Linked DNA regions of Homo sapiens: regions 2, 3 and 4 are each reported to be linked to region 1. Evidence: microRNA targets listed by miRTarBase, many of them from high-throughput screens and not tested one by one. Region 1 holds a microRNA gene; each other region holds the end of a gene's coding sequence.

What was found. The annotated mature microRNA hsa-miR-7109-5p reads CUGGGGGGAGGAGACCCUGCU and lies in region 1 at 3,708-3,728, shown strand. An mRNA with a match to its seed (bases 2 to 7 or 8) in the 3' UTR can be bound and repressed. Matches are read on the target gene's strand: a 7mer-m8 pairs with bases 2 to 8, a 7mer-A1 pairs with bases 2 to 7 and ends in A, and an 8mer does both.
Region 2: miRTarBase lists MYL12A as a target of hsa-miR-7109-5p. Seed matches in the 3' UTR shown: 7mer-A1 at 6,389-6,395.
Region 3: the mRNA of TGFBR3L is a reported target of hsa-miR-7109-5p. Seed matches in the 3' UTR shown: 7mer-A1 at 1,434-1,440.
Region 4: miRTarBase lists RPP25 as a target of hsa-miR-7109-5p. Seed matches in the 3' UTR shown: 7mer-A1 at 730-736.

Annotation. Positions count from the first base shown.
Region 1 is chr22:31,618,137-31,625,233 of GRCh38, reverse strand. MIR7109 (microRNA 7109) reads left to right here and starts at 3,703; the gene lies at 3,703-3,767. SFI1 (SFI1 centrin binding protein) reads right to left here. Exons shown (of 33, transcript NM_001007467.3): 32 at 7,008-7,097; 33 at 6,646-6,920. The coding sequence ends at 6,816. It overlaps PISD (phosphatidylserine decarboxylase), which reads left to right. Exons shown (of 8, transcript NM_001326411.2): 4 at 3,349-3,585; 5 at 3,762-3,900; 6 at 4,092-4,238; 7 at 4,521-4,681; 8 at 5,398-6,743. The coding sequence ends at 5,622. RefSeq lists enhancers at 208-761, 1-1,855.
Region 2 is chr18:3,255,420-3,262,532 of GRCh38, reverse strand. It overlaps MYL12A (myosin light chain 12A), which reads right to left. Exons shown (of 4, transcript NM_006471.4): 4 at 6,297-6,787. The coding sequence ends at 6,615. It overlaps MYL12B (myosin light chain 12B), which reads right to left and starts at 400. Exons shown (of 4, transcript NM_033546.4): 1 at 296-400. It overlaps MYL12-AS1 (MYL12A and MYL12B antisense RNA 1), which reads left to right and starts at 174. Exons shown (of 4, transcript NR_130145.1): 1 at 174-480; 2 at 1,203-1,261; 3 at 6,211-6,291; 4 at 6,695-7,097. RefSeq lists a silencer at 1-744 and an enhancer at 955-1,004.
Region 3 is chr19:7,917,494-7,924,604 of GRCh38, forward strand. TGFBR3L (transforming growth factor beta receptor 3 like) reads left to right here. Exons shown (of 7, transcript NM_001419781.1): 4 at 1-106; 5 at 208-366; 6 at 564-636; 7 at 1,424-1,604. The coding sequence ends at 631. SNAPC2 (small nuclear RNA activating complex polypeptide 2) reads left to right here and starts at 2,845. Exons shown (of 5, transcript NM_003083.4): 1 at 2,845-3,056; 2 at 3,930-4,049; 3 at 4,212-4,280; 4 at 4,542-4,854; 5 at 4,952-5,757. The coding sequence starts at 2,874. The coding sequence ends at 5,271. CTXN1 (cortexin 1) reads right to left here. Exons shown (of 2, transcript NM_206833.4): 2 at 6,998-7,111. RefSeq lists enhancers at 1-321, 322-1,197, 1,873-2,372, 4,073-4,675 and silencers at 193-292, 353-442, 563-632, 2,895-3,124, 3,205-3,404.
Region 4 is chr15:74,949,279-74,956,391 of GRCh38, reverse strand. It overlaps RPP25 (ribonuclease P/MRP subunit p25), which reads left to right. Exons shown (of 1, transcript NM_017793.3): 1 at 1-1,974. The coding sequence ends at 408. Among named protein-coding and RNA genes, the nearest start is that of RPP25, 3.9 kb to the left of the region's middle. RefSeq lists enhancers at 1-870, 871-1,804, 5,656-5,705.

The sequences.
Region 1 (7,097 bases):
GCGTGGATGCAGCCAGCTCTGAGCCTGAGCCTGAGCGGGGTTCGCCACTGGTTCGCCTGCCGTCTGCTCTGCTGCTATCAGCTGAGATGCTGCTTTGTTCCTTGGTTTGCTCAGCAACTGGGAGAGAGGACTCAGCTTCTCTTGAGAGCACAGTCCCAGATGGCAGCCGTAGATTAGCTAAATGCAGTTACTTTGCAGATGAGGAAACTGAGACCTGGGGACGTTCTGAGTGGATGGCAGTGTGGTCTCCTGCTGGCTACCCTGGGCCTCAGGAGCATTTGCTAGGCCTAGGCACAGACAGGGTGGGGTGGGCCTTGTTTAGGCGCAGGAGGCCAGGGTTGTGGTGGAAAGGCCCGTCCAGCCTCTGCGGCTCTGGTGAAGCTGAGCCCCTGCTGAGTGCCCTGCATTTGTGCTGGGAGGGTGGGGAGAGGCCGGATCACAGAGAGGCTGGATGCAGAAAGGAGGGGCTTGGGTCTCGTGTGTGTGTGTGTGTGTGTGTGTGTGTGTGTGTGTGTGTGTGTCCACCTTTGCTGAAAGGAGGGGCTTGGGATGGGTGTGTGTGTGTGTGTGTGTGTGTGTCTGTCTGTGCAGCCCCAGCAGAGCAGACAGGTGGCTTGAGAGCTTGTGGTGGGGAGGTTTTGTTCACAAACCTGTGGATGGGTTTTCAGAACCTGGCCTGTTATAGAAAGACCATGCAGATGGATGGAGCCGTAGCTGTGTGGTGGTGGTAGGCGGAGTGTAAATGCTCCCTTTGAGATCTTGTCTGGCCTTGGCCCCGTAATTTAGCAGATGAGGAAAGGGGGGGCCTGGAACCATGAAAAGGATATCCCAGATCCTGCAAAGGATGGTAGCGGAAGACTCAGCAAATGGTTACCCAGCTGGCTGGGTCGTAGCTCCTCAGCGCTATGTGCTGCCGTGCCAGTGCCTGTGTGGCAGAGCTGGCCCCTGGGGCCCACTCTCCTGGGCTGCGGAGGCTGAGGGATGTGAGGCAGGCCCTACACCCTGCTCTCCCCTTCCTGGGCCCAGGTGCTTGGGCCTGGAGGCCCTTGCTGGGAGCTGCTGCAGCTGAGAGGTGCCCCGCAGCTGGGCCTGACTCTCCTCTTGCGGCTGCCCCCACATTCCCAGTCCTCCCCAGCTGGCTGGCGGGTGGGAGAGCCTGGGAAATGAGTCCGCTAGCCAGAGGCAGCCAAGCCCCTGAATCAGAATGGGGTTGGGACGAGGGGGCACAGCCAGTGCTTGCTGGGCTCCATCACCCCCATGGAGAGGCAGCTTGCCAAGGGTGGGTAGACAGGAGGAATCCTGCCCTGGGTGCAGGTGGCAGCCTCCTGGGTCCTGCCCAGAGCCTGGCCACTGACCTGGCTGTGCATGGACCTGTGCCCTGCAGGTTGCACTTCCCCCAGCTGGCCCTGAGGCGGAGGCTGGGGCAGCTGAGCTGCATGTCCAGACCCGCTCTGAAACTGCGCTCCTGGCCCTTGACCGTCCTCTACTACCTCCTGCCCTTCGGCGCCCTCAGACCGCTCAGCCGGGTGGGATGGAGGCCCGTAAGCAGGGTAAGTGTGCACAGGCCCCTGTGGCTCGGACCTCCCTTCCGGGCAGGCCTGAGGTTGGGGTGCAGGAGAGACTGAGGTGGTGGCGAGCTGTCAGAAGCAGAGGTCACCGCTACATCTTCAGGGGGTCCGGGTCGGAAGGTTCATTGGTGGGCAAGGCCAAGGCAGCTTTTGAGAAGGCCACTACCTGGGCCGCGGGTGACTGCGAGGGCATGTCGTGCCCTGCCCACTCCCCTAGCCTGCCTCATGTCTGCCATTTGGGGCTCTGGTTCTGGAAGGAACCCAGTCTGGGGATTCAGAAAATGGTGTCTGTCTCTGATTTTTCTGTGTTCAAGCAAAAAAGAGCTTATAGGTGATTTTGAACAGAAGCCAAATTAATTCCGGGATGCCAAAGGGGTGGTTCAGGATGGATGGATCCTGTTTGGGTCCCTTAGGGTGAGGACACCCTTAAGGAACCCAGAGGCATGCCCCAGGAATGGGCAAGGGAACTGGCTTGTCCTCTCCTGGTCCCTAGAGGGCTTGCTCTTGCCCTTGGCTTCCCAGGCAGGTTGACCCCAAGGAGGAAACCCTGTTCCTGGGCCTTTGACAGTCACATGGGTGTCATCAGAGCTCAGGGGCACTGAGGCACCCTGGACATTAGCCCAGGCTCCCACCTGTGCCTGGGAAGGGCCTGGGCTCACATAGCCCTTCTGTGTGACTGGGCATCAGCTGGAAGGGATAAGAGCAGCTCTCTGGGAGCTTACCTTACCTTGGAGAGGTGTTGAAAGTTGGAATGAAATCAGTTTTACACCTTGGGGAGTTGGTGTCTTGGTTGTGTTTAGAGAAGCAGCAGCCACCAATTACAGGCAGCTTCTACAGTGGCAGCAGCACCTGAAGTTTAAGAGGCTGCCCCTTCCTGGGTACCTGGCCCTGCCGGAGAGCTCTGGGACCATCTAGTGGGACCCAGTGCTTGTCCCCAGGCCATCGTCTGTCTTAGGTGCTCCAGGCTTCCCTGAAGGAAGAGAGAACAGAGGGGCCTGAGGGGATGACTTCTCTTTGCCTCCTGGGAGGAACCCCAGGTGCAGATGGCTTTATGGCCTGGCTCAGTCACAGTAGAACGTTGAACACAAGTCCTGCCGTGGGGCCAAGGTGGGGCTCAGCAGGGCTGGGCTTCTCAGACTGGCTGCATCCAGGCCCTCAAGAGTGCTGGCTGGACCTGTGGGGGCTGCAGACCCTGTGTCTGCAGCTCAGGCCCAGGTGACAGTGACATCGCAGACCTGCATCTGAAAATCCCTGTTGGTGCTCAGGGTATCCTCCTTCTTCCTGTTAAGACAGAGGGACACACTTTGGGCTGTAGACTTGTTCCATGCACTTGGGAGCCTCCTCCTTTGGTGGTCTGGGATATGGGCAGTGACCACGGGCAAGATGCCCACCACCTCTCCACACACTGTGATATTGGGGTCACCGTGGCTAGGGTCACACACTGTGGTTAGGATCAGATCCGTTTCCGACCCCCACTTTAAGAAGTAAGACTGCTGGGCGTCTCCCGTTCTGGGACTGGAGCAGTTGCTATTTGACTTTTGCATGAAATGATGAAATCCACTGGAGTTGTATGTAAATCCAGCACTCCGTGTGGCAGGTGCAGTCTGGTTCCCAGTGAGAAACAGCCACATCACAAAAGCAGCGTGGGGCACCTGGGCCCTGGTGTCCTCCGTGGGGTGCAGATTCTCCCCTGAAGTGAGAGCTGGGCTAATGACACTACTTGGGCTCTCTGGAGCTGGGGCAGTGTGGTCAACTCAGCCCCTTGCCCTGTGGCCTGCAGGTGGCTTTGTACAAGTCAGTGCCAACGCGCTTGCTGTCACGGGCCTGGGGTCGCCTCAATCAGGTGGAGCTGCCACACTGGCTGCGCAGGCCCGTCTACAGCCTGTACATCTGGACGTTTGGGGTGAACATGAAAGAGGCCGCTGTGGAGGACCTGCATCACTACCGCAACCTCAGCGAGTTCTTCCGGCGCAAGCTGAAGCCGCAGGCCCGGCCTGTCTGTGGCCTGCACAGCGTGGTGAGGCCTGACCCTTTCCTCCTGCAGGAAACAGGACTTTTTCCTGCCTCCCCAGCACAGCCCCCCTGGTCTCCAGCGTATCTGGAAGGGGCAGGATGACAAGGGGAGGTGGGGGCTGTCTCCTGGGGGGAGGAGACCCTGCTCTCCCTGGCAGCAAGCCTCTCCTGCCCTTCCAGATTAGCCCATCGGATGGAAGGATCCTCAACTTTGGGCAGGTGAAGAACTGTGAGGTGGAGCAGGTAAAGGGGGTCACCTACTCCCTGGAGTCGTTCCTGGGCCCGCGTATGTGCACAGAGGACCTGCCCTTCCCACCAGGTGGGTCACTGCACAGGCGGGGCTAGGCAGCCCTGCTGCTGTGTGGCTGGACCGGGAGGGAGGGGAATGCTGGGGAAGGAACTGAGGCTGGCATGTGGGGCCTCCCTGAGAATCCATGTGCAGACCACACTCGGGCTCCGTGCTGGGTGCTCACTGTGTTGGTGGCCCCCACGTCTGCTCCTACTCCACAGCCGCGTCGTGTGACTCCTTCAAGAACCAGCTGGTCACCCGGGAAGGGAATGAGCTCTATCACTGTGTCATCTACCTGGCCCCTGGGGACTACCACTGCTTCCACTCCCCCACCGACTGGACTGTGTCCCACCGGCGCCACTTCCCAGGTCAGCCCGGGGCCAGCGTGGGGGGAGCTGCCTCTGTGGGCTTCATATAGAGGCTCTCAGCTTCTTGGTGTTGGGGGACCAGGCTCCAGATCAGGGTCATTGAGGCCAGGAGTTGACTGCTTTATGCAGGCTGGTTGTGGGCAGGGGACCGTGGGGCCCAGTCAGCTCAGCATTTGGAGTGACATCGGGGCAACAGGCCATGAGTCCCTTTGGGTCTTGGCTGCCATGGGGTGGACACACCGGGCTCTGGACGGGGAGTAGCGGCATTCCCTGCCTCTGCAGGCTCCCTGATGTCAGTGAACCCTGGCATGGCTCGCTGGATCAAAGAGCTCTTCTGCCATAACGAGCGGGTGGTCCTGACGGGGGACTGGAAACATGGCTTCTTCTCACTGACAGCTGTGGGGGCCACCAACGTGGGCTCCATTCGCATCTACTTTGACCGGGTAAGCAGGATCTAGGCCCTGCCAAAGCCCAAGGGCCAGACCTCTTGGGTCTACCTGCCTTGTCTGCTGTGCGGCGGATGCGTTGGGACTGAATTCTAGGGAGGCCACAGCTCTGGTCAGGCCTGGCTCTGCTGAGCAGCTGTCCTGAGAATGGCCGCTCCACCTGCCAGCCAGCTGAGGCTTCCCTCCCTCCTTGCACTGCTGGCTGGAAGTGGCTGGAAGAGATGGAGGGAATTAACCTCCTTGCCTGGCACCTGGCTTCTGCTAGGAACCATGGTCAAAGGTGAGAGTGAGGAGGGAACAGAAAGGGAGTGTTGAGCTCGGGGTGGCTCATGTTGGTTACAGCATGAGGGGTCAGCACTCGCAGGTCTGCTGCCCACCCTGCCCCCAGGGGCTGCCTTTTTGGGTGTCAGTTTGTGACCAACGGCCTTGGCTCCCACGGGTGCTGCTCTCCCAGCACCATGCATGGAGACCACTGGGCCCCACTGTTCCCTGTCCTCCCTGGGCCCAGTTCACAGCAGGTGTCAAGGCTGTGTGTGAGATCTGGCTAGAGCAGGCCCACCTGGCCCTGAGATGCCATCCCCACCTCCCTTTTGGAGCTGGGTTGGGTGGTGGTGGGGACAAGCAACAGAGGGAGTGGGACTCCAAACACATGTGGGGGTGACACTGTGCACTTGGTGGCCTGGGCCCCACTGACCCCCAGCCTATCACCACAGGACCTGCACACAAACAGCCCAAGGCACAGCAAGGGCTCCTACAATGACTTCAGCTTCGTGACGCACACCAATAGAGAGGGCGTCCCCATGCGTAAGGGCGAGCACCTGGGCGAGTTCAACCTGGGCTCCACCATCGTGCTCATCTTCGAGGCCCCCAAGGACTTCAATTTCCAGCTGAAAACAGGACAGAAAATCCGCTTTGGGGAAGCCCTGGGCTCGCTCTAGAGTCTCTTTCCTGATTATGGCTGCTAAGGGATCTTTTCCAAACAGAGTGAGGGTCTTTTCAAGAGGGAGGCCCATGAGGCCATCCAGGTAAGGGCCTGCCTCAGCGTGGTTGGGAGTCTGACCAGGTAGGACTTGAATGATTCGGCTACCACCTGTTCCAGAGGTGCAGACAAGAGGTGGCGAGAGCCCCCATCATGCCCCTCAACCTATCCCGTTCCTTCTGCCTACAAATAAAAAGTGCAGGCTGGAATGATCTCAGTCACATTTGGATCTTTTTAAACACTGTATAGACGGAAGAGCCTGCATTCCTGACCGAACCTTCAGTTGGTCTCGGTTGTCGTTTTTTCTTGCTGCTCCTCCCCCCATCACCTGAGCTGTTTTCTGTTGGCCCCTTTTGTTTTTTGGCCTTAACGCTCCTGCTGCACAGGGTGAGGTGCCTCCTTGGCACAGACTGTGGATGCCTCTCCCCCAGCAGAGCCACACAGCCTTCGTGACAACTGCTTTCCGTTCCCACATTCACCTCATCCTGCTCTTTAGAAAAAGCAGTCTTTGTGCTTGTGGCTGAACGCATCACCCTGGACTCTGCTAGTGTCTTCTGAGGACACTGATGACACTGATTAATGATACAGACCTTTGCAGGACCTGATGAGTGACCCTTCTGGAGCTGGCCAGGTCCTCTGCAGCAGGCAAGACCAATCAATCACTGAACCTGCCTCATGGCACCAGAGTGAACAGGGCAGGCAGGTAGTAGGCCCAGCTGGGGAAATGGGAGAGTTCCTGTCCCCCTCCACATATCCCTACATGAAATATGGGAAAGTTGCTGCTATTGATTCAGGGTCTGTCTTGGAGGCAGAGGACCCTTGGTGGATAGTTGGTCAGTGCCTGGAAAACCTGTCCCAGTTTATCAGGAACGCAGGCCTGGGGAGCCCCCAGTGGCGGGGACAGGGCCAGATTTCATGTTGACCCTGGGGATGCTGTGAATTTCTCCTGCAGGAGAGACATCATTGAATTTTTTCAACTGTATCAGTAGCACAGTATTTTTGTATGAAAAGTGGGAGACTTCTGAACAGTAATTCATTTAATTGCAAAGCATTTTGAAATAAAAAAAATCAAACTTAAAACTGTGTTCTGTTCCTGGAGGTGGCCTGAGGCCTCCCCGACAGCCCAGCACCTGCGTTCCTGGTGCGAACACGCTAGCACAGGGCCTGCCGCAGGGCCTGGATGCGGGCAACGCAGGCGCCAATGGGCTGGCGCTGAGCCTGGAGCTCCTCTGCCAGCAGCTGGATCTGCATTTCCACCTGGGGCCATGGAGGGACAGGCAGGGCTGAGAGGGAGCACAGCCCGGGGCGTCCCCAGGGACACCTGGGGATGGCCTGGGGCCTCACCTGTTCCAGCTCTTTCTGCACCTGCTGCTCTACTTCCTGGTCCTCAGGCCCCGGCTCCTCTCTGTTCAGCTCCAGCCACCTGCGCAGGCT
Region 2 (7,113 bases), not on the chromosome of region 1:
GGCCGGGACCCGGCCACTTCTCCAGCAGGGCGTCTCCCCATACCGGCTCCATCGCCTGCAGCCTCCCGGCCCCTGGACGTCCGGGCCAGGGCCTCGCCACCAACCCTCCTCCCGCCGCCAACCCTCCTCCCTCCACCTCCGGCCCCGCGCCCCCTTCTCAGCCAGTCTGACAGGTCCTGCCGCCGCCTGGCCGCCCTGGGGCGGGGTCCGGCCGCAGGCGCGCGACGGGAGGGGGCGCGGGGGTACGGAGACGGCGGCCCGAGGGGTCTCGCGAGCAGAGTCGAGCGCGACTCACCCGACGCCAAACACCAGAACCGGGGCCGCCCTGCGCGAGACCACAAACGACAGCGAAGAGCGTTAGGCTGTGGCCGGACAGTGGCGGCGCCGACACTTCCTGCCTGAAGGGGCGGAGCGGAAGGCGCACCGGAAGGCGCACCGGAAGGCGCACCGGAAGGCGCGGCGGGACCAAGTGGAACGGGGGTGCGCTGAGTGTTCGCGCCCGGGCCGGCGGGGTCTGCGTGTCCGCCGAGCGGCGGGGCTGCTGAGGCCGGACGCACACGGCCGGGGTCTTAATTGCCCCTCCGGCCTGCTCCGATCCGCTGCGATATCGCGGCCTGCGCTGCGGCGGTCGTCCGCAGCCCGGCCCTCGTCCCCCGCTCCTTTGGTAGCTCCGCCACCCTTCCGCATTCCTGGGCCCGCTGGGCGCGGCTGGGCAGGCCGCTGGAATTTGACCCGAGTGGGCCGCGATCGGCCGAGGATTTGGGGTCCCCTTTGACCCAGGCGGGGCGCGATCCGCCTAGGATTTGGGGTCCCCTGGCGCCGAACCCTGAGTTGCCAGATGTAGCAAGTAAAAGTACAGTTCTTCTAAATTTGAATTTCAGACAAGACAGGTTTTAGGGTTCGTCTCATGTAATGTTGAGAAGGTGAGGGCGGCGCCTGGGCGGATTCTTCTCCGTTCCAGAATCCCTTTCTCTTTTCAAACCGCATTACAGCCCGAGTTAAATTCTTTAACCTACTCCTCTCTGCTTACCCTCATAAGGTTTACGGCCGTATCAGGCTACGGCCGCAGCCTACGGCTGTTTGATTCCCCTTTTGGCCACAAGAAAGTTTTATTCGAACTACTTGCTTTCCTTTATCAAGAAAATGGCAACGCACACACATACATGCACACACAAATAAAAACACAAAGCTACGTTTTTCAGGTTTTGTTCTAGATCGTGTTTGTGGCTGTGTTCTTCAGGATATTTTCCCTCACCTTGAGGTAATCTAGCATTACTTCATCTAGCATTACTAAAATAGCATTACTTCAGGATGGTGGAGGATCGGCAATCTAATAGCAAATCTTTATTGAACTCTTCTTACTGCCTTAACATGTGCCGGATGCTGAGAGATGAATTCAAAGCCTCTTAGGGAGTTTATATTCTAGAAATCTTTGATCAGAAATTCCTAGAAGAGAGGGACCTTGTGTTCAGCACTCTGTAGCAGTTCTTAAACAGTAGCACGCATAATAACAGGGCTTTTAAAAACATTTTTGAGCCTCAAAACCGGGTATCAGGATTCAGTGAGTAAGGGGTGGAGGATAATTCGAATTTCTGGTAAGCACACATGATGCTGATGGGGTGGTCGCCATCCCAGCAGCACAGCTCTAAACGCGGTTCATAACTGTGTGTATTTTCTCAATAGTGTTAGAAAAGCAATTGCTGAAAAGTCACACCTGGTTCTACAATATTTACTCTTAGGTTTTGGTTCGATAGTCTAAATTAAAAAAAAAAAAGTTTCTAGAATTGTGCTGTCCAATACAATCGTCACTAACCACATGCAGCTAAACTTAAATTTAGTTCCTCAGTTGTATTTGATACGTTTTATTTTTAGAGATGGGGTCACCCTATGTTGCCTAACCTGGAATGCACTGGCTATTCACAGGCGTGATCATAATGCACTACAACCTGGAACTCCTGGCCTCAAGCGATCCTCTCACTTGAGCCTCCCAAGTAGTTGGGACTACAGGTGAGAGACACCGCACCAGTGCGTCTGGCAGTATTAGACACTTTTTTTTTTCTTGAGACGGAGTCTTGCTCCGTCGCCCAGGCTGGAGTGCAGTGGTTTGATCTCGGCTCACTGCAACCTCTGCCTCCCGGGTTCATGTGATTCTTCTGCCTTAGCCTCCCGAGTAGCAGGGACTACAGGCCTGTGCCACGACGCCCAGCTAATTTTTGTATTTTTAGTAGAGACGGGGTTTCACCATGTTGGCCAGGATGGTCTCAATCTCTTGTCCTCATGATCCGCCCACCTGGGCCTCCAAAAGTGCTGGGATTACAGGCGTGAGCCACCGCGCCTGGCTAGTATTAGACACATTTTAAGTGCTCAATAGCCACATGTGGTTAGTGTCCTTATTGTATGGCACAGAGAGCATTTCCTTAATTACAGAAGCTTCTATTTGACAGCACTATTCTGAAGAAATAATTCTAAGGTATATTGTTCTCTCTAGATGCAAAAGAAAAGCCTATAATAGGCTTTGTTTAATCATGAATAAAAATTTATTCACTAATAAAAATAGCTGGATAGCTAAATATCTATCATTGGGAAATTGTTAATTATAGCATGCCCACATCAAAGATAACTGAAGTTAAGAATGGTTGAAAAAGAAATATACTCAAAACAATGGTGGCTATGCCAAAACATGAGATATAATTTAAGTAGTAAACGAAAAAACAAGTTGTAAACTCATTACAACTCTAAAATGTGTGTGGATAAATACTGGAGAAAAGTCACATTTCCTGCTATTTGAGCAGACACAGAGAAATCTAGACTAAAAAGATATAGGGACTTGGAAGATGGAAGAGCAAGTGGAAATGACTCGAATAAGCAGCAATGGGAAAACTGGGCATTTCTTCAATGTGGGATTAGCTACTACAATCCCTTTATGGACAGAAAAAATAAACTGTACCCGTGAAGAGGACCTAATTCGACACACACAAGTCTGGCATATTGGACCTGCTCAGGAAATCGAAAGTGAACTATTTCAGAATCCACTAGTACCAAACTGACAGGCATTTGTATGCATAGTCTTATAAAATCTTCCTAACAACCTGTTAATGAAATTCTACCTTGAAATCCATCCACTTTTCTAAGGGCAATCCTACGTGGTCTAGGTTCTGTCACATCCTAGCTCTTAGACATGATCCATTTTGTTTCACTAATTGTTCCCCCCTAGTTTGTTGTCTTCTACTCTGCCTATAAACAGGCTTGAATTTGAAGATATGCCCTTTGCCCCTTCTCACTGGCCCACTCGTAAACAAAATAACTACTATTTGGAGACCTAATGTGTCCCAGACCATTTGTCTTTCATGCTTCTAATTTTCAGAAGAAACTTGGATGGTATTGGCCATTTTACAGATGAGGAAACTGGCAATTAAGAACACAAAGTCAAATAGGCAGGTGCAATTCACTTAAGTATGGCTCCAAATCCGTGCTGCTCTTAATCACACAAATGCTGCTTTATATATTATGTTCCTAATATGAACCAACAGTATTATTTCCGTTTTATAAATGAATAAATAGGCCAAGGAAGTTTAAATAACTGACTTAAGGTTATAGAGCCATGACGTAGCAACAAACGGGAATTAAGTGTAGGTCTGCCTGACCCCACACCTAGGCATTATTCACTATCCTGTGCTGCATTATGGATTCTGCACTCAGAACTCTAATAACTCTAGCAAACATGACTAACGACTTGTCACATCTGGGAGGGTCTCATTTAAACCTTCCCATACTCCACTTTTCTGTGTTGGACACTGCCAACCTCCTTACTCTTGAAATTAACTAGGTTTCCGTAAGACTGTTTTTGTGGCTCTATTTACCTCTCCAAACTCTGATCATTTTTTATCTGATCCTCAAGTCTAGGTGTTAAGCCTCTTGCTGTCCTTCCTCTTTTCACTTTGTAGCAAATGGTTTCCTTTCCTTCTCAATTTGCTGTTACTTGTCTCTTATGCTCAGGCCTTCCTCCTTTCTTTCCCAGGAGCATTCAATTCCTGCTCTCATCAAGTTATAGATTCTTTCATCAAGTAAAATTTGGGGCCTGGAATCAAAATGACCATATCATCATATGCAGGTGGATAAGGATGCCACCCCCATTAGGCTGGTTTTGTCCGATTTTTGTTTTCTTTTTCAAGACAGGGTCTCGCTGTCACCCCAGGCTGGAGTACAGTGGCACAGTCAGCTCACTCCAGCCTCAAACTCCTGGGCTCAAGCAATCCTTCCACCTTAGCTTCCAGAGTAGCTGGGACTATAGGCACCCACCACCATGTCCGGCTAATTTTTAATTTTTATGTAGAGATGGGGTTTTGCTTTGTTGCCCAGGCTGATGTCAATCTTCTGGCTTCAAGCAGTCTTCCTACTTCGACCTTCCAAAGTGCTGGGATTACAGATGTGCGCCAACGTGCCTAGCCAGATCTTTTGAAATGGTTTAAGTATGACTTTCATCATGGAAACTTTTGAGACTGATTTTTCAGTCAAACACACCATTGAAATGGATGCTTTTACCTTTCTGTTGGCAATCACTCTTGTTTAAGCAAAGAATGCTATTACTAAATTAGGAGAATTATTTCATTCAGGGTACATCATTGTTCTTAATGCAAGTTGGTTCATTAAGCACTTATCTGAAAGGGAAACAGGGGCCCTGCAAGAGATCCTTTTAGTAGTACCTTGTTTTTCATATAGTGCAAACAATGCTATCTGTTCTTCACTAGAGATGTAACAAAGCATATGATAATTTTTTCTCTTGACATGGAAATTCAATTCAAAAAACAAGATTTTAGCACCATGGCCATAGCCTGGAAAAAGTATTTTGGCTTAACCAGTGAATAAAATTCAGAAACAAAAGACAAAGAATGAAGGCAGGTTCTAAGATTCTAATGCTGAAGAGGTCAAGGACTAGCTTTGACTAGTCCTTCTATTCCTATAGCACTGGCCTTCCCACGTTACAGGATCTAGCTGATCTATCTTATTGGCTGCAAAGGCCTGCTGCCCAGAAGGCTTTTAGTAATTGTTTACTGAATGAGGTAATGGTTTTGTCCAAGGAGAGTCATGTTAATCGTAGCATAAAACTTAAAGTTATTATAGTAATTGTCAATTACTCATCTTCATAGGCTAATTGTCAAATCTTTTCAACCAAATTTTTCTCCATTTCAAATCTTTTAAAACTCATGCTCTTTGAGAGTCAGAGTTTTGGGCTGGGCATGGTTGCTCACACCTGTAATCCCAGCACTTTAGGAGGCAGAGGTGGGAAGATCACTTGAGTACAGGAGTTTTAGACCAGCCTAGGCAACATAATGAGACCTTGTCTCTACAACAAATTAAGAAATTAGCCAGGCATGGTGGTGCCTGCCTGTAGTCCCAACTACTCAGGTGGCTGTGGATCACTTGAGCCCAGGAGGTCAAGGCTGCAGTGAGCTGTGATCGTGCCATTGCACTCCAGCCTGGGTGATAGAGCGAGAGACCCTGTCTGGAAAAAAAAGAGAATCTTGAAGCCCTTTGAGAGTCAGATTTTTAAAGCTGAAAAAGAACGAAACTGTCTGCCACTCCCTGATTAACTGTGAAACAGTTCTGCATTTCTGCAAATAGTAGAAGTTATTTTTAGGACTGAAATAATGACCTCACTTTCCCAGGCATGCAGGTTCAGCTGTTTTGATTGTGGGAAGGTCAGGAATGTCCAAAACTCAAACATGGACTCATGGTGAATCTCTGCATAAACAAATATCTTTCAATACACATTGCTGTGTTAAAGAAAAACTACATATAATAAAAAAAATACTGCATTATATTTCCAGCACTTTAAAACATAACATAAAAATCTCTCTTTGGTAGCATTCCACAGAACCTTTAAGCCAAAATGGTTTTTAAAAATATGACAAATTGAAATTATACTCAGTAACCTGGTCTAATTTTAAATGACCAGAAATTACAAAAGTTTAAATAAAGTGGAAATGTTGGCAGGTATGTCAACTTAAGGACTTAAAGCTATGGAAACTATCATATATGCAAATTCTACAGGAAATTATTTTAAAAATTGGAAGACAAAGTGCAGAAAACCTGATTAGGGCAGTTAAAATTGGATATCCTTGGGAGGAGGAGGAGGAATGGATAGTAGAGGAGATAGGATTGTTAGGAAAACTGGAGGAAGAGAAAGCTAACAACCATATCATTTTCTAGGATTTCCCTCATCTACCTTTCTTTGGGAGATACGACTGAAACCAACAAAAGCCAAGTTTGGTAAATAAGAAGTTTAAACAAGTAAGTATTTTATCATAAAGTTTAATTATGATTCAGAAAAAATCGAGCGAATAACTTTCTCTGAAAAAATATATTGACTCTGTATAGACCACAGTTATTGGGGGAGAAGGGCTGGTAGGTTAAATTATCCTATTTTTTATTCTGAAAATGATATTAATAGAAAGTCCCGTTTCCAGTCTGATTATAAAGATACATATGCCCAAAATGGCTGAGAATAAATACAACAGGAAATGCAAAAGCTGTAAAGCTAAGGGCATGCAAGAGAAAATCTCAGAATACCCAAAGTGGCAACAAGGAACGTTTGGCTGGAATTTGAAGTTATTTCAGTCATCTTTGTCTTTGGCTCCATGTTTCAGGATGCGTGTGAACTCGATGTAATTGAAATTCCCCTTTTTATCAATAGGTGCTTCTCTGTACAGCTCATCCACTTCCTCATCTGTAAACCGATCCCCCATGGTTGTCAGCAGCTCTCTCAAGTAATCTTCCTGTATGGTGCCTGGAGAATAAAGAACAAGGGATCAGAATACATACTATTCTGAGGGTTAATTACAAAGAATATCTATACTTGACTAAGCATGTTCTGTATGTTACAAACTATAAACATGCAAATATATGAACTACAGGGTGTCCACCTACTTAAAACAGCCTCAGCAGAGAAGTGCCTAGAAAAATGCCTAGCTGCTTAGCAGCACTGCTCCGCTCTATCATTTGCTCTATCATTCTGCCTCCACATTCAGCTTCTGATCTCTTGATAAGAGAGACTAAACCTATGCCTAAACAAAGTAATAAAAAGTATGGTTAAAGAATCTAAGCCTTACGGTT
Region 3 (7,111 bases), not on the chromosome of region 1:
TGCGCCGACACTGGCAGTGGCAGCGCCGAGGGCCTGGCTGCTGACGGCCCCCACCTGCACACGCTGACGCAGCCTATCGTGGTCACCGTGCCGCGGCCGCCCCCCAGTGAGCACGCAGTCCTCCTCCGCATGGGGCCGTGGGGCGGCAGAGCGGGTGGGAAGGACGCCTGGGAGCTGGACCCAGTCTCAGCGTGGCACTTCCCACAGGGCCGCCCAAGAGTGTCCCCGGCCGTGCAGTGCGCCCTGAGCCTCCCGCGCCGGCCCCCGCGGCCCTGGAACCCGCGCCGGTGGTGGCGCTGGTGTTGGCAGCCTTCGTGCTGGGCGCCGCGCTGGCCGCCGGGCTGGGTCTCGTCTGTGCGCACTCAGGTACCGACGACCTCCGCCAAGCCGGGCCCCCAGTCTAATCCCGCGCGTCGGGACCCGGGGCGGCCGCGATCCCGCCTGCGGGGCCTGATCAACCCTAGCTAGGCCTGCCTCCGCGATGCCCGCAGCAGCCCCCAGGGGCCGCCCTTAGCCTGGCGTGGCGCGCAGCAGCCCTTCTGCAGCTCGCCTCTCCCTTCCAGCGCCCCACGCCCCTGGCCCGCCCGCGAGAGCCTCGCCCAGCGGTCCCCAGCCCAGGAGGTCCCAGTGAGGAAGGTAGGTATGGAGGTGGAGGGAGCTGGGTGAGGTAGGAGATCTGACAGTGACGCTTCCTAGCGCTTAGTTCGTGCCAGGCACTGTGGTTTTTTTGTTTGTTTGTTTGTTTGTTTGTTTGTTTTTTGAGACGGAGTTTCGCTCTTGTTGCCCAGGCGGGAGTGCAATGGCGCGATCTCGGCTCACCGCAACCTCTGCCTCCCGGGTTCAAGCGATTCTCCTACCTCAGCCTCCTGAGTAGCTGGGATTACAGGCATGCGCCACCACACCCGGCTAATTTTGTATTTTTAGTAGAGACGGGGTTTCTCCATGTTGGTCAGGCTGGTCTCGCACACCCGACCTCAGGTGATCCTACCGCTTCGGTCTCCCAAAGTGCTGAGATTACAGGCGTGAGCCACTGCGCCCAGCCTCCAGGCACTGTTGTAAATGTTTTACGCCTATGAACTAACTTAATCCCCTTAACCTCTAGGCGGACACTATTATAATCCCCATTTTAGAGACGAGAATGATGAGGCATTCTCTGAATTAAGTAACTTGTCAAAAGTCACAATACTGGGTGGAGCTTGGATTCGAACTCAGGCAGTGGGTCACCCGCGGCAGGCGCGGGCTTTGGGTCGAGCCAGGGGCATTAGGTGAGGAGAGGCACTAGGCGAGGAGAACTCAGCATTCGGACCCGGCTCCCACTCTCACCCCGGCATGCAGACCGATGGAAGAGGCTAGTGGTCTGCTGGGAAGGGAGGTGGCCCGCGTAGCGTCCCCTCCCTCGCTGAGCCTCAGCCACCCCTCCCAGGGATGGTGCGCCCCCAACATGGTCCGGAGATACACCCAGCTACCAATTCGGGACCAGGACCAACAGGACCGGACCCGCCTCCCTGGACCTCGGACCTGATGAGGCCACGACCCCTGCGCTTCTCTCCTCCCCCTGTCCCTCCCACCTGTGCTCAAAATAAACCTCTGGACTGACCGGCTAAGTTCTGGTGCAGTCAGTGAGCGCGCAACGTGCGGGGTGGGGGATAGGTGGGGAGGCTTGGGGAGAAAGCTGGGAGCAGGACTTGGGGGGTATTCCTGAGAAATCGTGACTTACAGGGGTGGAGCCTGGGGACGGGGCCCATATGCCCATATACCCGTGTGCACTCCCAGGCCATGGGAGACTGTAGGGCGTTTTGTCTCAAACAGAAAGCGACACCCGGCCGGGCGCGGTGGCTCCCGCCTGTAATCCCAGCACATTGGGAGGCCGAGGTGGGTGGATCACTTGAGGTCAGGAGTTCCAGACCAGCGTGGCCGACATGGTGAAACCCCGTCCCTACTAAAAAAAGTAACAAAAAAAGAATTAGCAGGGCGTAGTGGCGCGTGCTTATAATCCCAGCTGCTGGGGAGGCTGAGGCAGGAGAATCGCTTGAACCCAGGAGGCAGAGGTTGCAGTGAGCCGAGATCGCGCCATTGCACTGCAGCCTGGGCAACAAGAGCAAAAATCTGTCTAAAAAAAAAAAAAAAGCGGCACCCAACCCCACAAGCGTAAGTTTAAAATAAACCTTCCCCCTCCCTCCTCTCCTTACCCGGACACCTGCCCATCTGCCTCCTGCGATCTTTCTCAAGCCAGGCCTTCTCCGCTCTCCATTACCCCCGCCCGGACCCTGCCCTAGCTCCGCTTCGACCTTCTGCCTCTGCTCCAGTTCCCTCCTGGTCTGGACTTCGCCCTCCTCTTAGATTGTCAGTCTAGTCTAGAGCTCCTTAAATCCCTCCTGCCCGAGCTCCACTCTACCTTACACAGACAAGAGTGGGACTATCAGCCCCAGTCTACAGAGGAGGAAACTGAGGCTCGGCAAGGCTAAATCACTTGCCCAAAGTCCCCAGGCCTGTCTGACCCCAGAGCCCAGGCTCTTGACCGACTGGATCTTCGGACTTGACCTTTCGGCCAGAACCCACCCCTCTGCGAGAAGCAAAGCACACAGTAGTAGCTTCATGAGTTAGTCCAGCAACAGAGGGAGGGCATGGGATCCAAGGTGTCGTCTCCACTTCATGAATGAGATAAAGTGCAGGCTGAGGGTCTCCTTCGCCCCGCCCCAGTTCCGGTGCCGATCTCCCCTTCACTTCCATTGGGGCGGTTCCCCGGGCCTCCAAACGCGAAGCCACGCCCCCACGCGCGTCCGCCTCCGCGCGGTTCTTTCTGACCTCGGCGGCCCCCGTAGCTCCGCCCATCGGAGAAGCGACCTTACAGCGCCTGCCTCTTTCTGAGCGGCATGAAGCCACCTCCCAGGCGGCGAGCGGCCCCGGCGCGCTATCTGGGCGAGGTGACCGGTCCCGCGACCTGGAGCGCTCGCGAGAAGCGGCAGCTAGTGCGACTCCTGCAGGCGCGGCAGGGCCAGCCGGAGCCGGACGCCACCGAGCTGGCCCGGGAGCTGCGGGGCCGGAGCGAGGCTGAGGTGAGATGCGGTTCTCGGGACCGGAGCCAGGCTGGAGGCGGGGCTGGGGTGGGGCGGAGAGTGGGCGGGGCTGCGGCAGGAGCCAGCGGGGCGGGGCCAGGAATGTAAGCGAGCGGGGGCGTGGCGTGGGGCTGAGTGGCGGGGCGTTAGTGGGTGAGCCTGGGCGGGGTGAGGGGCGGGGCGTGGACGGGAAGAGAAGACCTAGGGGCGGGGCGAGCTTGGGAGCTAGACGTGGGCGGGGCATAAGTGAAGCGGAGGGGCGGGGCGATGCCGGGGGCGGGGCGTGCGTGCCGCTGAGGTTTGGAGAGTGGGTGGGTGAGTTTGAGGGGCAGGACGAGCCTGGGGGCGGGGCGTGGGCGGGTTAATAGCAAGACTTAAGGGCGGGGCCGTTTTGGGAGTAAGGCGTGGGAGGGGCGTGGGCGGGATGAGGGCAAGCTTTAAAGGCGGGGCGAGCCTCGGGGTAATGCGTGGGTGAGGCGAGGGCTAAACGGGCGGAATGAACTGGGAGTAAGATGCTGCCGAGTCCGGGCGAAAAGCAACGCATGCTGTTGGACAGGATACGAGCTTGAAGTGAGAGGGAATAGAGAAGAGGGGACGAAGAAGGGAGTTGAACGGGGTAGTAGTCAGCATAGGGTTGGGCCCTGGCTGCGTGAAGGAGCCGGAACTGGCCTGGGCCTTACAACTTCCTTAGGTAGCTGGTCACGCTCTGGGTGGGGTAGGGGCCTTGGCAGTCACTGGGACTCCTAACACCGGGCCAGCAGGAGACTAAGGCGCAGTAGCGGGGCCCAGAGCATACAAGGGATTGGGCTTTGGCTTCTCTGCTGCAGCCCTGAGCTCATAGAAGCCTCATTCCGCCGCCTCTTTCCTTTCTAGATCCGGGTCTTCCTCCAGCAGCTCAAGGGCCGCGTAGCCCGGGAGGCCATTCAGAAAGTGCATCCGGGTGGCCTTCAGGGACCAAGGCGCCGGGAGGCACAGCCCCCAGCCCCCATAGAGGTGAGGCAGATGAACAGGGTGAGGCTGTCCAGGGCAGGTCCCTGGTGGGTAGGTGGGAGTTGCGGGGGATAACCTGATTAGGGGATCCCCAGGAGGAGCAGGGCTTGGGGGGCCATTGCAGGCTGATCCCTGGGCTGACCCTGTACCTCTGGCTTCACTCAGGTCTGGACGGATCTGGCTGAGAAGATAACAGGGCCACTGGAAGAAGCCCTGGCAGTGGCTTTCTCGCAGGTACCGCCATTCCCCCAGGCAGGTCAGGGTGTCCCAGAGGACAGGGTCACATGGGCCAAATCATGTGAACCTGGGTCCTGGGCCCTTTTGCCAGCTCTGTGGACTCCGTCAGTCACTGGACACCTCGAGCCTCAGTGTCCCTGGCTCTGAGGCCATCTCTTGTCTGAGGAGCATCTTAGGGTGGCAGGGAGGATGGGGGAATGTGTAGACGGTGAGAAGACTTCCCAGCTCCTCTTCCTCCCTGATTGTTCTGCCTGCCAGGTGCTCACCATCGCGGCCACGGAACCGGTCACCCTCCTGCACTCCAAGCCCCCCAAGCCCACGCAGGCCCGTGGAAAGCCTTTGCTCCTGAGCGCCCCTGGAGGACAGGAAGACCCCGCCCCTGAAATACCTAGCTCTGCCCCTGCTGCACCTAGCTCCGCACCCAGGACTCCTGACCCTGCCCCTGAGAAACCTTCTGAGTCGTCGGCTGGTCCCTCCACTGAAGAAGACTTTGCTGTGGACTTTGAGAAGATCTACAAGTACTTGTCCTCTGTCTCCCGAAGTGGCCGCAGCCCCGAGCTCTCAGCAGCTGGTGAGAAGGGTGAGGGAGGGGGCAGGAGCAGAGGGATCAAGGGTCCCTGGCAGCAGGCAGGGGTGTCCCCTTACCCCTCTCCTCCATCCATCACTAGAGTCCGCTGTGGTCCTCGACCTGCTCATGTCACTTCCAGAGGAGCTGCCACTCCTGCCCTGCACAGCCCTGGTTGAGCATATGACGGAGACGTACCTACGCCTGACAGCCCCCCAGCCCATTCCCGCTGGAGGGAGCCTGGGGCCTGCAGCAGAAGGGGATGGGGCTGGCTCCAAGGCACCAGAGGAGACCCCCCCAGCCACCGAGAAGGCCGAGCACAGCGAACTGAAATCGCCTTGGCAAGCAGCTGGGATCTGTCCCCTGAACCCGTTCCTGGTGCCCCTGGAGCTTCTGGGTCGGGCAGCCACCCCTGCCAGGTGAGGGGCATGGCGGGCAGGAGGCCACACCAGGCCCCCCGCCCTGCCCCTCGGTTCTGCTCGGCTGGCCCTGGCTCTTTCTGAGGATCCCGTCATGGGGGAAGGTCCTTGAGATGATGCTCAGCTGTGGGGCGGGCCTCTAAGATGCCCCATACTTTGGGGGTCTCAGAAATGGAACCCCCGTTGTACAGGGGTTGGGTGGGGGTTGCAGGACTCCACTCACAAGCCTCCTGATGTCAAGGACAGGCGGACAGGGCTGGCCTCCCCCAGTCCCCAAGCCCCACTGTGCCTTGTTGTCTGCTGGGGGGCCATAGCTGGCACTGCCCACCGTAAAGGCCCTCGCACATTTTCCCCCTTCCTGTACACCTCGGGGCCAGCATCCTCACCTTCTTCAACTGACCAGTCGTGGTTACTCCCTGCTGCCAGGTCCTTCCCCTTCCCGGGGGTATTCTGTGACCATGAATAAAGTTATCATTCTCTTTCTCTTTCACCTGTGACTTAAAGATGGAAGTGGGGGCCCTGAAGTGTCAGAGCTTGGGGGTCACAGGGCTGGGGGTGTGTGCCAGGGAGGAGAGCTGCCACCTGACTGGTGTGATGAGGCCTGGGGTGAGGAGCCCCTTGGTGACTGTGAAGCTGACAAGTGTGGATGGGGAGAGCCGGCAGGGCACCTTGGGGACAGGCGTCAGGGATGGGTTTCAGAGTAGGGCAAAATCACATCGCACAGGTGGAGGGGAGAAGGCAGCAGAGAGTGGGGGTGACCCGGTGGAAGGAGTTGAGCCCCAGGCTGGGCGGTTAGAGGAAGATAGATAGGGGTGGGCTGCCCCGAGTGGCAGGAGGCTAGTGGGAGTGGAGTGTCCCCTGGGGTGGCTTTGGGACCTCAAGGATCCCTAGAAGGCGGGGAGGGAGGGGTACTGGAGTCAGGGCTGACCCCAAACCCCTGGGGGTGCTGGGACCCCGCTTGAGGCCCCCTCCATCAGCTTCACCTGCCCTGTGGGTGTGGACCGAGGGTCGGGTCCTAGAGAGGGAAGCAGATGTCCTCCCACGGCACCGCGTCCCACGCCCAGCTAGTAATCCAAGTCGGTAAATTCTCCGTTCTCGGAGCCTGTGCATTCACCCAGCCTGCCTTTTATAGAAACGCTCATTCCTCCCCCCACACACTGCACACGGCTCCCCTGGGGTGCACATCTCTTGGGAGGGCCTTGGAGCACAGCCAGCCCACTCCGTCCGTGGTCACCGCCCCACCGCACCAGACCCACAAACGCTGCCAATGGTGGTGGGCAGGGGGAGGAGGCTTAGGCTGCAGGTACGGTCGGTCGTCGGAGCCTCCCTCCAGGGCTGGCAGAGGGTGCGCCTCCCAGTTCCCCACAGGGCTGAGTCTCTCTCACCACCCCCGGCGCCTCCCCAGATCAACAGAATTGTGTGTGGAGGGGAGGCAGCTGGGGGTTACACATCAGCCCCCCCCCCCAAAGCCGGTGAAAGGTGCTTGTGATCTTGGTGTCTTTGCAGCCCTGGGAAGCTTTAAAAACATGCAAAAGCCAGACCTGGGTTCCACTTCCAGCCCTACCAGACTCTAGCCATGTGACTGTGGGCAAGTCAGTCACTGGAGCTGCCTGGCCCTCGGTCTCCTGGCCTGTAGAATAGGGATGCTAACAGGGCCTGGCTCATTCTCACGATCCCGAAGAGGAGACAGGCTATAAACAGGAGGTGCCAACTCAGCACGCTACTTGGCATGCAGTAAGCGCTCAATAATAGCTTTTATTATCATGTTCGGCTCAGAGGCAGGGAGGAGTGGAACGGCATGGGAGGGCTGCGGGAGGCACGGCAGGGGGGTCAGGGGCAAGTGG
Region 4 (7,113 bases), not on the chromosome of region 1:
ATCGTCTTCAGCGGCTGCGGCCGGGCCACCACCAAAACCGTCACGTGCGCCGAGATCCTCAAGCGCCGCCTGGCGGGCCTGCACCAGGTCACGCGGCTGCGCTACCGGAGCGTACGCGAGGTGTGGCAGAGCCTCCCGCCTGGGCCCACGCAGGGTCAGACGCCTGGCGAGCCGGCCGCTAGTCTCAGCGTACTTAAGAACGTGCCCGGCCTCGCCATCCTACTTTCCAAGGACGCGCTGGATCCGCGACAGCCCGGCTACCAGCCCCCGAATCCCCATCCTGGTCCCTCGTCCCCGCCAGCCGCGCCAGCGTCCAAGAGGAGCCTAGGGGAACCCGCAGCTGGAGAAGGCTCCGCGAAGCGATCGCAACCCGAGCCAGGGGTTGCGGACGAGGATCAGACGGCCTGAAACTCCGGACTGTGGGCCACCTAGTCCGGCAGGATCTTCCGCCAGCGCCTCCACCTTCAGATGTACCTCCAGCCTTTCACTCCTCGGTCCTCCGGAGCCCACAACCTGGACACAGCTCCTCAAGACAGGTAGCATGGACCTTAAGGCGACAAGAGAGGGGCCCCAGGAGTGGCAGGAGAGGATCCCCGACCACCCTAGGGAAACTTCGTGCGATAATTGCTGCTTATGCCCGTGTTGCGTGAAGACACGGAACTTCACCTTTTCTGGGACCTTCTTTGGGGGAGAATGGTGGACAGTGGGATTCTGGAAACTTGTTTGGGACCCCCAAGGGTTAAAGCCACCCAGCATTCACGAAGAGCACCTGAAGTATGGAAGCTGAGAAGAGTTATTGGAATCACCCCCACCGTTGACAGAGGAAGGCAGGGGGTGAGAATTAACTGCTTGAGGGTAGGAGAGTCTGAGATGTGGGGGCCCTATTCCGCTCCCCGCCCTGGGACAGTTTTCCTTTCTAGTTTTCTTTCCCCTGCTTCAGAGGAGCATCTCTGAGGGTTCTAGCTCTTTTAACACCCCTTTTCCCCCTGCTGGCCCAGAGGGAGACCCAGGACTGAACTCTCCAGGCCTCCTCCCCTGAGCCCTGCAGCTGGCTGGAGTCTTGCTTCCAATAAAACAAGCACAAAAATGGCTGTGTCCCCCATTTTTTTTCTAACCACCCGCCTGTGCAGAGACAGCTCTCGCCTGGCCCCTTGTGTCTCCCCTCCCCTCCAGCCTTGCGTCCTGAGTCTTTGGAGTCTTCAGGGTCAGGCACAGAGACTGAACAGCTTCAAAATGGTGCAAGGCACTGCCCAGTCCCTGGCTTCTTCCTCTCTCCTCCCCCACTCCGCCCTCCCGGGCTGGCCCTGGCCTCAGAGGCTGTTGCAAATGGGGGCCCGTGTACCCCTGTACATCGCCACTAAGGGAAAGGGAGCGGCACATTGTTTTTCTGGGAGGGGAAGGAAGGAGTGGAAGGACAGCATCGATGAACTCTCCTGGAGGTCACTGCAAAGGGTGGCAGACCCTGCTGAGGTCCCTGAATCTGCAGCCTCCAGACAATAAACTGAACCTTACCCAGAAGGCTGGCACAAAGCCCCCAGCTCTGTGGGTAGGATCTCCCCTTCACTGCCCTCTCTCTGAGAAAGGACAGCACACCCTTGGGAAAGGGGGAGGAGAGAGACTGAGCACAAATCCACTGCTGGAAATTACTATTCAGCAGAGAAGCTGGGTCTTGGGCTGTGAATCACTGCAGGCCTCCTGATAAGCTGCTGCCTCCAGCCCTGCACAGCTGTCTGTTGAGAGATAACAGCCTCATAAGCTTCTCTGCCCAACTCCAAGCCAGCTGGGGGGTGGGGGTGCTGCTGTGTGCTGGAAGAGCTCTGGTGAGTTGGGGGTGGCATACAGCCCCAGGATCTCAGAAGCAGATCTCATCCCATGCAACTCAGCAGCACCCCTGGAAAGGGGGAGATGCGGAAGAATGTATTTATAAGTCATTTTGCTGGCAGAACCCTGAAATAAATCCTGCTGGTGACAAGAGATACGTTCTGTGGCTGACTGGAGGGGCTCTTAGGGAGGTTTCCCTCCCCTGCAGTATCTCTGCTTGAGCTTTGGAGTGAGCTTTGTCATCCAGACTTTGTCCCTCGTTGCTCTCCCCAAATTCCTGCTCTTGATGAGTCCCTGGAGAGGGCCAAGGGGTTTGGGTTTGCTTGTCTGACCCTCTCAGGGGTGGCCCAAGAAGCATGGAAAGAATGTAAACTGTCCTGACAAGATGGCCTAGCTTCTCCTGGACTTCAGCATCTAAAGGCAGTGATAAAACTTGGACAAGGTCCTGCATGGTAGAAGCTTAAGGGAGACTGGTCTTGGTTCTGAAAAGGGTCCAACTTTCCAAGACAACAAGTGACTGATAGCCGGGTTACCAGGACTATGAAAGCAGGGCCTGAGGCCGGGCATGGTGGTTCATGCCTGTAATCCTGTAATCCCAGCACTTTGGGGGGCCAAGGCGGGCAAATCACGAGGTCAGGAGCTTGAGACCAGCCTGGCCAACATGGTGAAACCCCGTCTCCACTAAAAATACAAAAATTAGTCAGGCATGGTGGCGGGCGCCTGTAATCCCAGCTACTCAGGAGGCTGAGGCAGGAGAATCGCTTGAACCTGGGAGGCGGAGGTTGCAGTGAGCCGAGATTGCATCACTGCACTCCAGCCTGGGCGACAGTGTGAGACTCCGTCTCGAAAAAAAAAAAAAGAAAGCAGGGTCTGCTAGTCTTGTCACGGAGATAAGGCTGCAATGGATTTTTTTTTATTATTTTTTTTGAAACGGAGTATCTCTCTGTCGCCCGGGCTGGAGTGCTGTGGTGCGATCTCGGCTCACTGCAACCTCTGCCTCCTGGGTTCAAGCGATTCTCCTGCCTCAGCCTCCTGAGTAGCTGGGATTACAGGCGTGTATCCCCACACTCGGCTAGTTTTTGTATTTTTAGTAGAGAAGGGGTCTCACCATGTTGGCCAGGCTGGTCTCAAACACCTGATCTCAGGTGATCCACCCGCCTCGGCCTCCCACAGTGCTGGGATTACAGGCATGAGCCACCACACCCGGCCTCTCTTTTTTATTTTTTTTATTTTAATTATTATTATTATTATTTTGAGAAGGAGTCTTGCTCTGTCACTAGGCTGGAGTGCAGTGGTGCAATCTCAGCTCACTGCAACCTCCACCTCCTGGGTTTAAGCGATTCTTCTGCCTCAGCCTCCCAAGTAGCTGGGATTACAGGCATGTGCCACCACGCCCAGCTAATTTTTGTATTTTTAGTAGAGACGGCATTTCACCATGTTGGCCAGGATGGTCTCAATCTCTTGACCTTGTGATCCACCTGCCTTGGCTTCCCAAAGTGCTGGGATTAGAGGTGTGAGCCACCACGATTTTATATATATATATATTTTTTCGCCCGGCTGTAGTGCAATGGCACAATCTCAGCTCACCGCAACCTCTGCCTCCCAGGTTCAAGTGATTCTCCTGCCTCAGCCTCCGGAGTAGCTGGGATTATAGGTGTGCACTACCACGCCCGGCTAATTTTTTTATTATTAGTAGAGATGGGGTTTCACCATGTTGGCCAGGCTGGTCTCAAACTCCTGACCTCAGGTGATCCACCCGCCTCAGCCTCCTGGAGTGCTGGGATTACAGGCATGAGTCACTGCTCCCGGACTCTTTTTATTTTTTTATTTTATTTTTTATTTTGAGACGGAGTCTCACTCTGTTGCCCAGGCTGGAGTGCAGTGGCACAGTCTTGGCTCACTGCCGCCTCCGCCTCCCAGGTTCAAGCAATCCTCCAGCCTTAGCCTCCTGAGTAGCTGGGATTACAGTCGTGGGCAACCATGAGCAGCTAATTTTTGTATTTTTATTAGAAACGGGGTTTCACCGTGTTAGCCAGGCTGGTCTTGAACTCCTGACCTCAACTGATCCACCCGCCTCGGCCTCCCAAAGTGCTGGGATTATAGGGGTGAGCCACTGCCCCCGGCCTGCAGTGGATTTCTCTTGATGGGTCAGAAAAGTTCCCTTCCAGCCCAGAAACCTATCCTGGGGGGTAGAGAAGAGAGGAACATGTTTATCCAGCATCAGAGCATTAACCTTCCCCCAAGCAGGTCATGAAACACTTTCTTTTCTGCACTCCCGCCCCACCCCGGCAAGTTTGGTTCCCAGGCTTTCAGTAGGTGTGCTGACTCACCAATGGAACCCAGCACGCATGAGCACTCCATCTCTGCCCTACTGATTTCTGGCCCCACTGACCTAGGAGCAGGCTCCAAAAGAAGGTGACAGATGTTCCTCTACCCGCTCCCCACCACCAAGGCTGAAGTGGGAACCTCAGAAGTCCTGGGATAAAGGGAGGGGTGGCTAGGGGAGCACCTCAGAGACAAGGCCCATTTCAGGAGCCGACTAGTGGCAGAGTGGGAGAGTCCCTCTTGTGAAACCCCATTTTTCCAATAGTGGTCTCTACCCAGGAGCTTCCTGGACCCAGCCTGGTGCTTGCCTTGGCCCCGCCTTGGGATACTTCCAGACTAGGAGCGGCAGTGAAGTCTCACACCTAGAAAACTTAGGTCACAAAAACAAAATCCATTTGGAAACATAAAAGTATATAATGCAAGGCCCAGAGCTCATGGTCGAATGAGTGATGGACTTCCACCTGAGCCTTCATTCATTCAACAAGTGTTCACTGTTGTACCGGGACCCAGTCTAGAAATGGGCTGGGGCTGGGTATAGAATCACAGCATAATCAGACACTGTACCTCAAAGAGGGCCGAGTCTTGGCCAGGTGTGGTGACTCACGCCTGTAATCCCAGCACTTTGGGAGGCAGAGACGGGGGGGGGGGGGTCACCTGAGGTCAGGAGCTTGAGACCAGCCTGACCAATATGATGAATACAAAATTAGCCGGGCATGGTGGCGGGCGCCTGTGATCCCACCTACTTGGGAGGCTGAGGCAGGAGAATCGCTTGAACCCAGGAGGTGGAGGTTGCAGTGAGCTGAGATGTGCCATCGCACTCCAGCCTGGGCCCATCTAGCACAGTGTGATGATAGAAGATGGGAGCTCTGAGAAGGGGAACTTACCTTGCCCAGAGGTGCTGATGGAGCTGGTTCTCCAAGGATCAGGAGTTAGCCAGCTGACCAAGACTGGACAGGGAGCTCCAGGCAGAGCATAGAGAGCGGGTGTGTATGATGCTGAGGCTGCCACAGGTGTCTGATGGATAGAGGAGATGGCAGAGGGTAACGTGTAGAGATGCAGGTGAACTAGAGTGCTAGGTGGGAGCCAGGTCACAGGGAAGTGAGGGAGCCGGTGGGAGCCAGGTCACAGGGAAGTGAGGGAGCCACTGGGAGCCAGGGAGTGCTCTGAGCCCAGATCTGACTGGTGTTTGAGAAGGATCCCTCTGACACCTGTGTAAGTGGGAGTGGATTGGAAGGGGGTCTGATTAGACCCTAGAGACAATGCAGGGATAAGAGATGAGACATCGGCAATGCGGAGGGAGATGGGAGCAGATGTGAGAGCTACCCAGGCTAGGTAGGATTTCACTGCTATTACAGCCAGGAAATGGGAGGGTTCTCCTTGAGCATTAACCCTGCCTGGCCAGGACTTGGTCTGCCTTTCTGGCACCCCAGGGGACGTGCTATGTCAGGACCAAACAATGGAGTGATTATTTTTTGTGGGAGGTGGGAGTACCCAGCTTCAAATTGGTAAATCTTTAAGAGCTGTTGTCCATTGCCATGAATCTGCCAGAGTGTATTCACTTCACTGTTAGGTGCATACCTGGGCCAGACACACACACTGCCTACCCCCACCACCCCTTGCCCTTCATCTCCCAAGCTGATTAGTTCAGTTTTGGTCATTGCTATGCCCACACTGACCACTAGGTGATGCTCTCGTCCCTCTATTTCACTGAGATGTTGAAACACTCGCAGGTCTCCAAGAGAATGGTAGTTAGAAAGGCAAAGGAAAGGAAGGAAGGGAAGGAGAATGAAAGAGGAGGAAAATGCAGCCACAGGAGGGTCTCCTCAAAGGCATCAAGTTTCTTCCTTTCAGAGCACAGATACTGGTTTATAAGTGTGTCCTCATTAGTCTTATCTTTTGGCTATTGGTCACCCTACTAACCCATGAGCCCGTGATTGACTGGATCCTGCCTGCCTTGCTCCTTGCCCAGCTCCTGGCACATGAGAAGCTCTTAGAGAGTTGTTGATTGAATGGACTTGCCGCTGGCCAGGCACAGTGGGTCATGCCTGTAATCTCAGCATTTTGGGAGGCCAAGGTAGGAGCGCTGATCACTTGAGCCCAGGAGTTCCGAGTCTAGCCCTGGCAACATAGTGAGATACCATCTCTACAAAAAAAAAAAAAAAAAAAAAAAAAAAAAATTAAATAGTTGGATGTGGTGGTGTGTGCCTGCAGTTCAGTTACTCAGGAGACTGAGGTGGGAGGATTGCTTGAGTCTGGGAGGTCCAGTCTGCAGTGAGCCATGATCACTCCACTCTTTCAAACCAACAAAAGACTTTCTGAGCCAGGTTTCTGAACTGTTCTGATGTCACATTACAATTCTTAACCATCCAACCAATGGCCAAAGCTGCCCCTATCTCTTCCACAGCTTCTCATCCCATCTGAGCCCTTGGGTACCCCTGCCTTTGGAGAAGCTAGGGTCACCATGGCAATTGGGTTTGTATATTCAGCTTGAGGATTCCAGTGTTGTTTCTGACACCTGAATATTATAGGTGCTATGAATTGAATTTCGTGCCCCCCCACCAAGACATGTTGAAGTCCTAATCCCTGATACCTTATTTGGAAACTCTGGCTTGGCATGGTGGCTCATGCCTGTAATCAATCCCAGCACTTTGGAAGGCCGAGGCAGGTGGATCACCTGAGGTCAGGAGTTTGAGACCAGCCTGGCCAACATTGTGAAACCCCATCTCTTCAAAAATACAAAAATTGGCCAGGCGTGGTAACTTATGCCTGTAATCCCAGCTATTCAAGAGGCTAAGGCAGGAGAATGACTTGAACCCAGGAGGTGGAAGTTGCAGTGAGCCACCAGATTGTGCTACTGCACTCCAGCCTGGGTGACAGTGAGACTCTGTCTCGAAAAAAAAAAAGGAAAAAAGGCTGGGCACGGTGGCTCACGCCTGTAATCCTAGCACTTTGGGAGGCCGAGGCGGG